4 separate regions of the Homo sapiens genome follow, and all the other regions are reported to be linked to region 2. The links are microRNA targets in miRTarBase. Many come from high-throughput screens and were not tested one by one. Region 2 holds a microRNA gene; each other region holds the end of a gene's coding sequence.

Region 1 (3,155 bases), not on the chromosome of region 2:
CAAACCCTACCATGTCACTCACTGCGATCTACGCCTAGAGAACCTGCTACTTGTCCACTACCAGCCTGGGGGGACTGCCCAAGGCTTTGGGCCTGCAGAGCCCAGCCCCACCTCATCTTATCCCACTAGGCTTATAGTGAGCAACTTCTCTCAGGCCAAGCAGAAGAGCCATCTGGTGGACCCCGAGATCCTCCGGGACCAGTCTCGCCTTGCCCCAGAGATCATAACAGCTACCCAGTATAAAAAGTGTGATGAGTTCCAGACAGGCATCCTCATCTATGAGATGCTGCACCTACCCAACCCCTTTGATGAGAACCCAGAGCTGAAGGAGAGGGAATACACACGAGCAGACCTGCCTCGCATCCCATTCCGCTCCCCCTACTCCCGGGGTCTGCAGCAGCTGGCCAGCTGCCTCCTGAATCCCAACCCTTCTGAGCGGATCCTCATTTCAGACGCCAAAGGCATCCTCCAGTGTCTGCTCTGGGGCCCCCGCGAAGATCTCTTCCAGACTTTCACCGCCTGCCCTAGCCTAGTACAGAGGAACACCCTGCTCCAAAACTGGCTAGACATCAAGCGAACACTGCTCATGATCAAGTTTGCTGAGAAGTCCCTGGACAGGGAAGGTGGAATCAGCCTTGAGGACTGGCTTTGTGCTCAGTATTTGGCTTTTGCCACTACAGACTCCCTCAGTTGTATTGTGAAAATTCTGCAGCACCGTTAATGTGTACCTGGATGATGCTTTTACTACATCTTCACCTTCTTCATGTCACCCATGCACTTCCCCTCCCTAGTGCTCACTCCAAATTCAAGGAAAGAAGAAAGGCAAACCTCTATCCCTGTCCGTGAACAAGTGGGTCTATTCAGAAAGGTTATCCACTGCCCCAGATTGAATGAGAAGCTGAGTCTGTCTTAACTTTACAGAAATTCAGCTGCACAAACTTGCAGTTGCCTTCCCTTGAAACACCTTCTATCCTAATAGTCCCATAAATGCAGGTAAAAATGAAAATCCATATTCTTGAAGGGACAGCTTCTTTGGTATGAACTCAGCCAGTGAGCTGTGTCCATTTCCTCCATAATTCTGGATATCACCTATCTTTTTAGCACCAAGTATTTATTCTCACTAGCAGTAGACAGACTTAACCAGTCTCTACCACGACCCAGTAGACTCTGACAACAGACTCTTCCTTTAAGGTGTCAACAACTGACTTACTAGGCAGGACTGCCATCCTTAGCATCAGCCCAGTTTTGGTTACCAGGGACTATATCTTTTGTTCCAGGAGAGAGTAGAAAGAAAAGGAGAGATCCCATCCTTGGGTCATAGACCCATTTTCATTGCCATTATCTGTAAGTATGTGCACTGCATGGAGGACAGCCCTAATAGTCTCCCCTCTGCTGCCACTGCCTGATTCTCCACTCTGTCCCCACTTGCCAGTGAAGTTTGGATTTATCAGCCACTTGTGGCCCATTACAGAGCTGACCCAAGGTGGTGTCACCAATGCCTCAGCAGGGTGGAGTGCAGTTCAGAGCTTATAAATAGCTGGCAGGGCATGAGGAGATGATTTTCTTGCATGTGCAATTCTCTAGGGGCCATCAGGAAACAGAGTTTAAAGTACCCTTTGATTACTGTCAGAACTGTCAGCATTTGCAGTTTTCCCCGAGCAGTAATTGGCCAGCTCCCTTCTATCAGTAGCCAGTGTTAACTAGTTTACCAAATGCTGTAAACAATTGCCCTGAATGAAATAGCTGTCAGTGGAGCTCTAAGATCTCCTTTAGAGGGCACAGTGAGGTGGGCTGTTGGGATGGCCGTAGGCAGGGGAGAGGAAGAAGGCCACTGATGAGACTGCTGACCTCCTCAGAAGGTTGACCTCTTCTAGAGAGACTGCCTCCCAGTGTTTAAGTGGCTCATTGCTCCTTCTGACTCTGTAAAATGGCTCTGGAGGACAGCTCACAGGAATTCTGATTGCTGAGGTGGGTGATTGAGAGCTGTTCACCATGTGTGCAGCCTGTGCTCCCCTTCTATGGATATGTGTGCAATTTTTGTATGTATTTTTTTAGCTGTATATTACAGTGTTTATGTTGCAACTTCACCTGAAGCGAGTCTACAGAAACCCTCCCCCTTCTTCCCTTGGCACATATTTGCGCTAAGAGATGAGCGTTCCTTCCACTGGGGTTGTGTGTGTGTGTGTGTGTGTGTGTGTGTGTGTGTGTGTGTGTGTATGTATACACATGTTCACCTGTGCTTGTTTTATTCAAAACTGTGAGTATGTGTTTACTTTGACCTTGAAATCCCAAGAGTCACTCGAACAATGTGTGTGTACACTTGTGTGCCCATGTGTGCGTGCACACGCATGCTGGAAGTAGAGGCCAGGCCTCTAGAAAAGCAACCTGTGGCAGGGTTGACAGACATGTTCTCTGTGCCTAGTGAGTGAGTGAGCCCTGAGGCCCCTCATCTACCAGTGCAGAGTTTCCTTAAAGCCAAGACTGACTGTGCAGTATTACTTACATAGCACATTAGTGGCCTTGGAAATTTCTAAACTTTTAACATTTTTAACAGCTTTTCATGTGATTCATGTATAACAAAGAGGATCAGGAAAGGAAAATAATGTATTTTATTGTGCTCTTATTACTTTTTTAAGTGATTGTAATATGTGAGGCTCTATTTGGAGAATGTCCCTTATCCCCTGGCCAGCAATATAGGACTCACAGGAAAGAAGGCTGGTTAGCCCACAAAGAGTCTTGCCTCCTCTAGCCAGAGTGCAGGGCTCTGCTCCTAGGAATGGCCATGGAGTGGGCATGCTGCTGCAGGCCAGCAGTCTGCTCTTGGTGTCCTGTGGCATGGCCGCGCCTTGCCTTGAAGGTTGGTGTTTGGTTCATCTTAGCATAGAACATGTGCACATAACTCCTTGCCTGATTATGCACTGAAGGGCAGCACACAGACCACTGACCATGTCAGCCAGCACATTCCCTTAACCTCCCCCACCTCCCATCTTGCAATGTCTTGCATATTGAGATATACCTTCTCAATGTCATGTTCGTGGTGCCTTGCCCATGTAAATTTCAATGTTGACTATTTAATGAGGTTACATATTTAATGCTGAATGTTTCCTGGTCCCTCTATTTGTTATGTCTCTACTTATCTTTTTTTTTCTTTCTCT
Region 2 (3,177 bases):
TGTCTGTTAGAAATGGGCCTTGAGGGTCAGGTGGCAAGGGTATGGGTATAGGATACAGAGTCCAGGTAAGGTTTCCTGGAGGAGGGGTAGAGGAGAAGGAGGTAACAGGGGTGCTTGTTGGGCTTGGAAAGTGGAGGGAAATTCATGAAGGTGGAGGAGGAGTGAGATGGAGAGGGCAACAGACCCCAGGGTGGTGAGCACAAGGGTTTATGTGAGGACTAATCATAGCAATTTTTAGGGCAGGGAGGTCTCTTGGTGCCCTGAGAACAGAGCCCTCTGAAAAGTTAAATAAAGCATAGATTAATAATTATTAGTTAATTAAGAATCTCTCAGGGTGGGGCCCAGGAATCTGCATTCTTAAATTCCCCAGGGCATTCTAATGAGCAGTCAGTGTTAGGAACCCCAACTGTCTTAGGGCTTGGAGAAGGAGAGCTCAGCCCATGTTAGGCTCCTTTGCCCCAAAAGCTTGGAGGGTAAGAAGATAGGTGGGACAAGGTTCCATCTGGTGGTGGAACCCCTCAGTGGGCCCAGCTGAGGAGTTTGTTCTTCATCCTGTGTCCTGGTAGGGTGTTCTGGAACAGGTGGAGGCCTACCAGGCTGAGGCTCGTGAGGCCCTGGCCTCACTGCCCTCCAGTCCAGGGCTACTGCAGTCCCTGTTGGAGAGGGGGCGGCAGCTGGGGGTGGAGGTGCCTGAGGCCCAGCAGCTCCAGCGGCAGGTGGAACAGGCGCGATGGCTGGATGAGGTGAAACGCACACTGGCCCCCTCAGCCCGAAGGGGCACCTTGGCTGTCATGCGAGGACTGTTGGTCGCGGGTGCCAGTGTAGCCCCTAGCCCTGCTGTGGATAAAGCCCAGGCCGAGCTGCAGGAACTGCTGACCATTGCTGAACGCTGGGAGGAGAAAGCCCACCTCTGCCTGGAGGCCAGGTAGGTCCAGCTGCTGCTTCCCTTCCCTGCCCTATTCCAAACATCAAAGTTGAGTGGAGACCCAGAAGAGGATGCCCATGGGTGGCCTTAGGTATCACGCTCCTGTGTTACTGTATTGACTCTCCCCTCTTTTGTTGTCTATCTTGTCGTTTTTTTAAAAAACAACTCTGTATACTTAAAGGCAAAGAGAGGCTGATGGAGAAGCAGAAATGGACAGATAGAGATTATCTAGAAGACTAGCCCTACAGGCTAATGTGCGCATACCCAGAAGCACAAGTGACAGGCAGATGGGCAGATGTTGGTAGAAAGACCCCACACAGGGCAGTTGACAAACTGCAGCAACAGATTACACAATACAGGTTGTATATGTAGGCATTGCTAGCAGGCCAGCAGACTGGCAGACAAACAGAGGTGCAAGAGCTGTGGCAGAAGGGATGAAGTTGGGTGCATGCAGTCTTGGGGAAGCAGGGACTGGCAGCTACCCTTAGGTGGAATACAAGCAAGTAGGCCCAAGTGACAGCAGGAATAACAGACACCCAAGGGGCCCATGCAGATATATCTGGTGGTCAGGCTGGGCTTCTGGTCAGGCAGACCACATCAGACTGAGCGTTCTTTTTTTCCTTACCTTTAGGCAGAAGCATCCACCAGCCACACTTGAGGCCATAATCCGTGAAGCGGAAAACATCCCTGTTCACCTGCCCAACATCCAGGCTCTCAAGGAGGCTCTTGCTAAGGCCCGGGCCTGGATTGCTGATGTTGATGAGATCCAAGTGAGGACCCTGCCACTCCCACCCCAGGCCTTCAGTCCAGCTGGGAAGAGATGGCATATACACTGGGATGTGCTGGGTTGCTGGGATGGGTTGGGTTGGCTGGAGAGAGGAAGGGGGCATGGCATGTAGTCAGGAGGCAAGATGTGCCTGATGAGCAGGGTGAGAGGAAGAGTGTGAGGCTGGCCTGAAGGAAGAGAGGGCACTGGTTAGGATGAGATTGGTGGGCCAGGGAAGCAGGTGGTATGGGACTGAGCAGGGCAGGGGCATGGAGGAGAGGAGAAGAGGCAAACCACAACAGAAGGCTGACTAGATATTTGGGGCTGAGCCAGTCAGTAGATGCCGGTGTTGTGGGAGAGAGCCAAGTGGTTGTTCCTTAGGATGACACCTATTTTTTTAATCCCTCAAGACTGAGCCCAGTTCATCTTTCCAGCTCAGGGCCAGGCACAGAGTAAGCATCAATAGCATTGGCAAGTTGAACTGAGCTGTCTCTCGCCCTTGGCCTTAGAATGGTGACCACTACCCCTGCCTGGATGACTTGGAGGGCCTAGTAGCTGTGGGCCGGGACCTACCTGTGGGGCTGGAGGAGCTGAGACAGCTAGAGCTACAGGTACTGACAGCGCACTCCTGGAGGGAGAAGGCCTCCAAGACCTTCCTCAAGAAAAATTCTTGCTACACGCTGCTGGAGGTGAGGCCTGGGACCTTGACCTACAGCGTCTCTTAACGCCTGCCCTGGCTTCTGTGAGATGGCTCATGAGATAACATGGGTTTTGTAGGGGCACCAGGGAGGGAAGGAGGCGGGGGATGTAAGGGAAGCCCAGTCATTCCCTCTCTTGTCTGCCTGCCCCAGGTTCTCTGCCCATGTGCAGATGCCGGCTCAGACAGCACCAAGCGCAGCCGGTGGATGGAGAAGGAGCTGGGGTTGTACAAATCTGACACAGAGCTGCTGGGGCTGTCTGCGCAGGACCTCAGGGACCCAGGCTCTGTGGTAAGGAGCTTCGACACAGATGGGGAGAAGGGCTTGGTGATGATAGAGTGTCTGAGCTGGGTGGCCATGAGCAGACCGCTTGTCCCCTGAGCCTCAGTTCTCCTGGTTTGGGAGTGGGGGTGTTAAGGGGGGGCCCAGAGAAGGGAAGGGGTAGGCTGCTGACCCACTTTGCTCCTGTCCTGGGTATGGCAGATCGTGGCCTTCAAGGAGGGGGAACAGAAGGAGAAGGAGGGTATCCTGCAGCTGCGTCGCACCAATTCGGCCAAGCCCAGTCCACTGGCATCATCGAGCACGGCCTCCTCTACAACCTCTATCTGTGTGTGTGGGCAGGTGCTGGCTGGGGCGGGAGCTCTGCAGTGTGACCTGTGTCAGGACTGGTTCCATGGGCGGTGTGTGTCAGTGCCTCGCCTCCTCAGCTCTCCGAGGCCCAATCCCACCTCATCCCCACTGCTGGCCTGGTGGGAATGGGACACCAAATTCCTGTGTCCACTGTGTAT
Region 3 (3,146 bases), not on the chromosome of region 2:
CAAGGGCCGGCCTGCCCTTCATCCTGCAGGGGTACTTGGGCATGTGGAGGCCCCTTTCTCCCTGGTGTTGCAACTGGAGAGGAGTCGGTTCCTGAAGAACAGATGGGAGAGTGCTGGGGCCAGGTACCCTGGGAGAGAGGAGGGAAATGAAATCCGGCACAGGGGCTGCGGGGATAGGGGCAGTCAGGAGGCGGCAGTGCGGTGCAAGGGCCCCCCCACGCGGCCAGCTGTGGAACTTCCACCACGACTCCCTGTCCTCTCCTGAGCCCGCCCATCACGTGTAGAAGCTCAGATGCTGGGCGCCAGGAGGGCGGCTTCCTGGCTCTGGGCACCGTGGTTCTGTCCTAACGAGGGGCGCTCTCTGGGTGTAAAAACAGATGTTCTGGCTGGGCGCGGTGGCTCACGCCTGTAATCCCAGCACTTTGGGAGGCTGAGGTGGGTAGACTGCCTGAGCTCAGGAGTTCGAGACCAGCCTGGGCAACATGGTGAAACCCTGTCTCTACTAAAATACAAAAATTAGACAGGCATGCTGGCCGGCGCCTGTAGTCGCAGCTACTCGGGAGGCTTAGGCACGAGAATTGCCTGAACCCGGGAGGTGGAGGTTGTAGTGAGCCAAGATCTCGCCACTGGGCTCCAGCCTGGGCGACAGAGACTCTGTCTCAAAAAAAAAAAAAAGAGATGCTCTGTCTGGCCTGGGTTGTTGTTGGTGGCCAGAGTAAGTGGTGTGAACAAGAGCCCCGGCTTGGGAACATGTCTCAGACTGGCATTGAAAATGAAAGCCAGGATTCCTCTAAATCCACCGCCTTGAAGTGTAAACAGTCCAGAGAGAAACCGACTTTGCCATGCTCCCTCACCCAAGAAAGCCCTCTCTCAAAATGCGCTAGAAAGTTTATATCTGCCTGATCCAGAGAGCAAGTGGAAGGTGCGGAGAAGCCAGACAGAAAAATCGACCTTAACCAAGAGTTCCATCTCCCAGCCTTAAGTTGTGGGATACTGAACAAACAAAACTACACATGTCCTGGGAATTTTGCTTTGTGGTGTTTTTAAAAAGAATGTCAGAGCCCTCCTTGGGGGCTTCAGAAAAGCAGGTATTGCTGGCCCATGGCTTCTCAAGATCACAGTCCCCAACCTATGCTCACTGAGAAGATACCCGCTTACTTCCCCAGTCTCAGGCAGAGAGTTCGTGGTGAAGTGATAAGTAGCAGGAGAGGCCAGCAGACAGGAAGCCACGGGGTCACCAAGGGGCAGGGAGAGAAGGCCTGGCTGCGGCCCCGTCACCCGCCAAGCGAGCCCCTGAAAAGGCTGTGGGCAGCCCCCCTGCCAGTGAGGCCTAGCTCCTGTCTGGTGGGAGCAGAGCCGCCTGGATGGCCCAGTGTCACTCGATGCTCCATCTCTCTCCCCGCTAATGAGCTGTCACCTCAGTGGGTGATTTAACTGGATCTTTCCTGGTAAAACAAGAGGGGCTATTGAGAGCGGAAACACCCATCCGGGAGTCCCCTGAGATGGAAATGACCCTCTTAAATTGGGGATCTCTGGAATGTCCTGATTATCTGCACCCAGTGTGCTTCCTGGAGGAAGGCTAGCAGGACAGAGGAGCAGCGGAGGGCAGGGGTCCTCCCTGAGGAAGTTGGGGGAATGAGACCCCACCTCCCCACGCAGAGCAAGTCATCAAATGAGAAATGGAGCTCCAAACAGCACTGAGATTTCTGGGGCTGGGCGCAGTAGCTCACACCTGTAATCCCAGCACTCTGGGAGGCTGAGATGGGAGGATCGCTTGAGCCCAGGAGTTTGAGACCAGCCTGGGCAACATAGCAAGAGCTCATCTCTGCAAATATTTTTTTTAATTAAAAAAGAAAAAAGATTTCTGGAACCCTTTCCACAGTCTAGTCTTTGCCACTGTATTCCTGTTATCAGCCCTCATTCTCTATAAATGGAGTCTGAAGAACAGCAAAGACACAGGGAGGAGCCTGGAATTCCTACTGCACAGCCAGGATGGAGGAGACAGGGATGGCAAGCGGGAGCAGGTGGAGGCAGTGAAGAGGAGGGCCAGAGGCTAGATGTGCAGAGGTTCTAGAAGGAGGGGCAGCTGGGGAAGGAGGGGCTTGACCCCCTCAGGGTCTCAAGACAGTCCCCAATGCCCCTGCTTTGCACGGGGCAATGTACTCCCCTGGGCGCCTCTGCACCCTTCTGTCTACCAATCATGCTCTGAATGTTCCCCGGGAGCCAGTTCAAGGATCACCTCCCCCAGGAAACCTTCCCTGATTAACCTCAGCCCACCACGTCACGTCTCCTCTTGTGAACGCCGGAGTTTGGGCGCCATCCCGTGTTGTGCTGGTTGATATGAATGTGTAACTGCTGGAGGTCTTTTCTTAAGACTTCTCTCCTGGCCTGAATTTGAAGCTTCTCAGGAGCAGACTCCATTTCTTCCTTGTTTCTGCATCTATCCACCAATACACAGAGCTGCCGGTCAAAGGCATCGGGACAAGGCTTGTCCTGCCCTCTCTGGGGCCTGACTGTGGGATAGAAGGTTCTGGAGAGCCAGGGCACGCTGGGCAGGTGGCGGGGCCGAGAAGGGAGGGAAGACACGGGCGAAGGAAAGCACAGGAGCGAAGCGGGCAAGGGGCACAGGCGCCCTCATCCCAGGAAGGCGTCGTAGTCCATGTACCACACCAGCTGGCCGGAGTGCGGCAGGACACCCGAGATGGGCCACTTCTTGGGCTCATGGCCCACCCGGCTCACCAGCGTGGTGATCTCACGCTTCATCCTGCCCATGACCAGGACTGCCACCTTCTTGGCGCGGTTGATGAGAGGCAGGCTAAGGCTCATGCGGCGGTGTGGCTGGGAGGGGCTCGTGGTCAGCACGACCAGCTGCTCGCCATCCAGGCCAGTGGGTGACTGTGGGAAGAGGGAGGCTGTGTGCCCGTCGGCACCCATGCCCAGCAGCACCAGGTCGAAGCTGCTGTTGGCCACCAGGGCTGAGATCTCCCTGGCATAGATCTGGGCGCCCTGGTCCTCCTCGGCGCAGAGCCGCTGCTGCAGGTGCACAGGCATGGGGTGGATGTTGTAGTAGGGGATCCGGACGTGCTGCAGCAGGTGGGCCTGCAGGCCCTGGAAGTTGGACTCCGGGTCTGAGAGTGGGACGCAGC
Region 4 (3,177 bases), not on the chromosome of region 2:
GAAGTAGATTCGCCACAATCAAATTTGAATACAGAGAATTTTGAAGTTTAAGCATCAAACAACAAAGTAAAAGTCCCCAAGATACAACAAAGATCTAGGCAAGTCTTGTTCCTGTCCCACTCCCACCCCACCCCTAATGAAACTTAAAAGGTATTCCCATTTCAATTATGGCCTGTATCATTCTTGGCAGTTTGGGAAGAGAACTTTTGGCTTCCATTGGTAACTCAACATAAATGTTGCATAGAATTTATATATTTCAAAATTGGCCTAACTGTAGAAAAGGCAAAATGGAAGCATTTCCGATAGAGCCCTAAATGAGTACAAAGTCACTTTGTAAAAGGTGAGTGACACTAAAGTAAAAATATGACCAAAATAAGAAATGTGCATATTAGACAACCCTGCTTCCCGAAACTTTAGGAAGGACACGGAGTTGTGAGTCACACAAGGGCTATGCTACTTGAAGTCAATGTTCACCAATCAGGCAGCACTAGGTACAGAAGTCTTGGTTCTGAACCTGGACCCAGGAGGGAAGTCTGTGGGAAAGGGGAGAAGAGAATGACAAGAGAGGATGTCATATTAAAAAAAGGTTTCAAACAATATTGGCAGGTGTCTACTCACAAGGTGATTGGAAAACTGCCCACGAGGAGAAGTCAACTTTACCTCCTCCCAAATTCACAGTACGCGAGTGTAGTAGGGTCATTGCTGGGAGATAAATTGTCTGAGGAGGGCCACCCTTCAGGTTTACCAGAAATCTTAGGGTTTGGCCCCCCTGGTCACAGGCTAAATATATGGTTTAAAAGTTTTATTAAAAAGAAAAACAGAACAAGACACACTCACACCCAGATGACTAATGAAGGCTAAGCAGAATAGTCTGAGTTTGCTGAGACTAAAGCAGGGATAGTGTTGAAAAGTTTTCCTTTCACTAGTGGGACACATTCCCCTTTTCTTTTCAAAGAGGAAGAACATGGTGTCATCCAATGTGAAGTGAGCAGTTTCGGGTCAAACTCTTATGGTAAGAAACTAAAAAAAGATGCCAAGAGACAAACCTTCAGAAATAGAAGAAATGCAAAAGATGGAATAAAAACCCTGATCATTAAAACAGAGACACCTTCACTGGTGTCCAATAAGGATTCTCTTTACAAAACAGAAACAAACAACTCAAAAATTTACCATACTTTGTAATGAAAATACCAGTATGTTGAAGACACAGCAGACTGGGTTTCTATTAGAACAAGTATCAGCAAGGTCATGTAGACTTGTAGAAACTTTTGCCTTCTCCTGCACCAGACAGATCATTGTCCAGTTGGGTTGTCAGCTGGAGACCGAAAAGAACCTAAAAAATGGATCTTTTTTTTTTTCTTTTTCCCATGGTCACGCATCCACACAAATGAGTCTTTTGGATGAGAAAAGTCACAGCAACTTGAGTTCTCCTAATGAACAGATGACTTTTTAGCCCTGTTTGTTTCAATGGGGAAAACAATGACAAAAAAAACAAACCCCAGGCAGGCACGACACTTATGTAAAATGAACACAGTTAGTACAAAACCAGTAAGGCATCACTTTGGGAAGGTCAGCACCGAAGAGGTCAGGCAAGGCTCGTCCAGACGGGGCTTCTGGGAGGGAGTGACCCTCACCCTTATTGAGCTGCGTCATGTTGGTTCTGAGGAAAGTGCAAGTCTTTTGCAGGGTGACCGCATCACCCCACCGGAAGCTGGGGCGGGGACGCTGGAGGTGTTGGTGTGTGTTCTAAACCCTCAAGGACGAGAAGGGAAGGCAAGGTCCATGGCTCACCCACATGTCGAGGACCAGGTCCTCATCCATTTTAAAGGACACAGATACCCCCAGCCCTAGCAGGAGGAGGCGAGTGTGTAGGACTGTGAGGATGGACAACTAAAAACCAAAACTGAGCAGGACCAAACCAAAACTCAACTCCTGCGGTTCTTACTTTCACCAAAGGATTGATTCTGACCAAGAGGGGAAGGGGGAAAAAAAAATCTTCAAAAATCAATGCATCAGAAAGGAAGAAACTCAACCTCATTTTCAAAAGGTAACCTGTTCTCCAAAGTAGAACAAGTCTCACTATACACAGTGTTTGCAGAAAAAAAAAAAAAAAAACCTGATTCATTCATATATCAGAAGGAAAGAGACACATGCTGTTCTGCACTGACAGCCACATCCACTCGCTCACACTCTCACTCCGTCACTCACTCTCACGGATATTAATCAGAGGCTGATGGACCTGAATGGGGTGGTTTGATTGGAACAGGCAAAATACCTCTCGGGTAAGGAAAGCACCATTTAAAAAACATGAAAGCACGGTTTATTTGCTCCTAAGGTTTCCCTGTGTCGTAGCTCTGTAGTGCGTTGAACGTGACCAAAGCAAGCACCCTGGTTAGCACCAGTTCTCCCTGTGGCCGGCTGTGTGGGAGGGTGGGTGGCACGGCTCTGAGACCCAGTCTGGAGGGTCTGTGCTGAGGGGAAGCCGTGCTTCTCTGTGTTTCCGACTTTGCTCCAGTCTCTTCTGTCTCTGGGAAGCTCATGGCAGGATGCTGTTTGGTTTCAGAGCTTCATGTGGGTTCTCTTTTTTTTTTTCTCTCTGTCTCTCTTTTCATTTCAACGGCGATGATCCTTTCCCGAGAAGTATCTTCAGTGTCTTAGGGAGGTCACAGCAACAAGGCAAAACAATAATTAAAGTACAACAGAAGGTAGTGCAGTTCTCGCTGTGGAAGGAAGCGGTCCGCAGGCAGCTGGCCCGGGATGCCTGCACCCAGGTCGAGGCTGAAGGACGGGGGGTCTCGGTGTTCCCGCAGCTCTAAGGCTGTGGCTGGGGGCTGGCTCAGGAAGTCATCTTCAGGGTGATGTGGGGGATGCAGGTGGAATGCGGTGAGGAGAAGAGGAGGGCGCTGGGCTCCGGGCCCCTGTCACAGAGTGGACTCCAAAGAGGAGTCCAAGATGTCATCGTGATGGCTGTTGCTGTTGGAGTCGCTGTCATAGCTCTGGGGGCTGGAGTAGTTGGCTGCCTCCTGCAGCCTCATCAGCATGTTCATCTAGGGGAAGAGTGGAGAAGCATGAGCTGCTTTCTGTCTAGTTGGCCGCCCACCCTGGACTCCTAAAAGGTCATGCCACCTCCTCCAGACTCACCTGGGATAACAGCCCACAGTGGAGGCAGTGGACAAG

Evidence for each region. The annotated mature microRNA hsa-miR-6895-3p reads UGUCUCUCGCCCUUGGCCUUAG and lies in region 2 at 2,179-2,200, shown strand. An mRNA with a match to its seed (bases 2 to 7 or 8) in the 3' UTR can be bound and repressed. Matches are read on the target gene's strand: a 7mer-m8 pairs with bases 2 to 8, a 7mer-A1 pairs with bases 2 to 7 and ends in A, and an 8mer does both.
Region 1: the mRNA of PEAK1 is a reported target of hsa-miR-6895-3p. Seed matches in the 3' UTR shown: 7mer-m8 at 1,874-1,880.
Region 3: miRTarBase lists H6PD as a target of hsa-miR-6895-3p. Seed matches in the 3' UTR shown: 7mer-A1 at 495-501.
Region 4: miRTarBase lists NAV2 as a target of hsa-miR-6895-3p. Seed matches in the 3' UTR shown: 8mer at 2,598-2,605 and 7mer-A1 at 2,523-2,529.

Annotation. Positions count from the first base shown.
Region 1 is chr15:77,111,722-77,114,876 of GRCh38, reverse strand. It overlaps PEAK1 (pseudopodium enriched atypical kinase 1), which reads left to right. Exons shown (of 10, transcript NM_001385026.1): 10 at 1-3,155. The coding sequence ends at 721. Among named protein-coding and RNA genes, the nearest start is that of TSPAN3, 42 kb to the right of the region's middle. RefSeq lists a silencer at 440-628.
Region 2 is chrX:53,194,434-53,197,610 of GRCh38, reverse strand. It overlaps MIR6895 (microRNA 6895), which reads left to right and starts at 2,123; the gene lies at 2,123-2,200. KDM5C (lysine demethylase 5C) reads left to right here. Exons shown (of 26, transcript NM_004187.5): 19 at 567-925; 20 at 1,557-1,695; 21 at 2,201-2,380; 22 at 2,543-2,680; 23 at 2,873-3,177.
Region 3 is chr1:9,264,358-9,267,503 of GRCh38, reverse strand. H6PD (hexose-6-phosphate dehydrogenase/glucose 1-dehydrogenase) reads right to left here. Exons shown (of 5, transcript NM_004285.4): 5 at 1-3,146. The coding sequence ends at 2,635. Among named protein-coding and RNA genes, the nearest start is that of SPSB1, 27 kb to the left of the region's middle.
Region 4 is chr11:20,118,003-20,121,179 of GRCh38, reverse strand. It overlaps NAV2 (neuron navigator 2), which reads right to left. Exons shown (of 38, transcript NM_145117.5): 38 at 1-3,047. The coding sequence ends at 2,922. All of the region lies in intron 2 of LOC107984418 (a long non-coding RNA gene), which reads left to right. Among named protein-coding and RNA genes, the nearest start is that of DBX1, 41 kb to the left of the region's middle.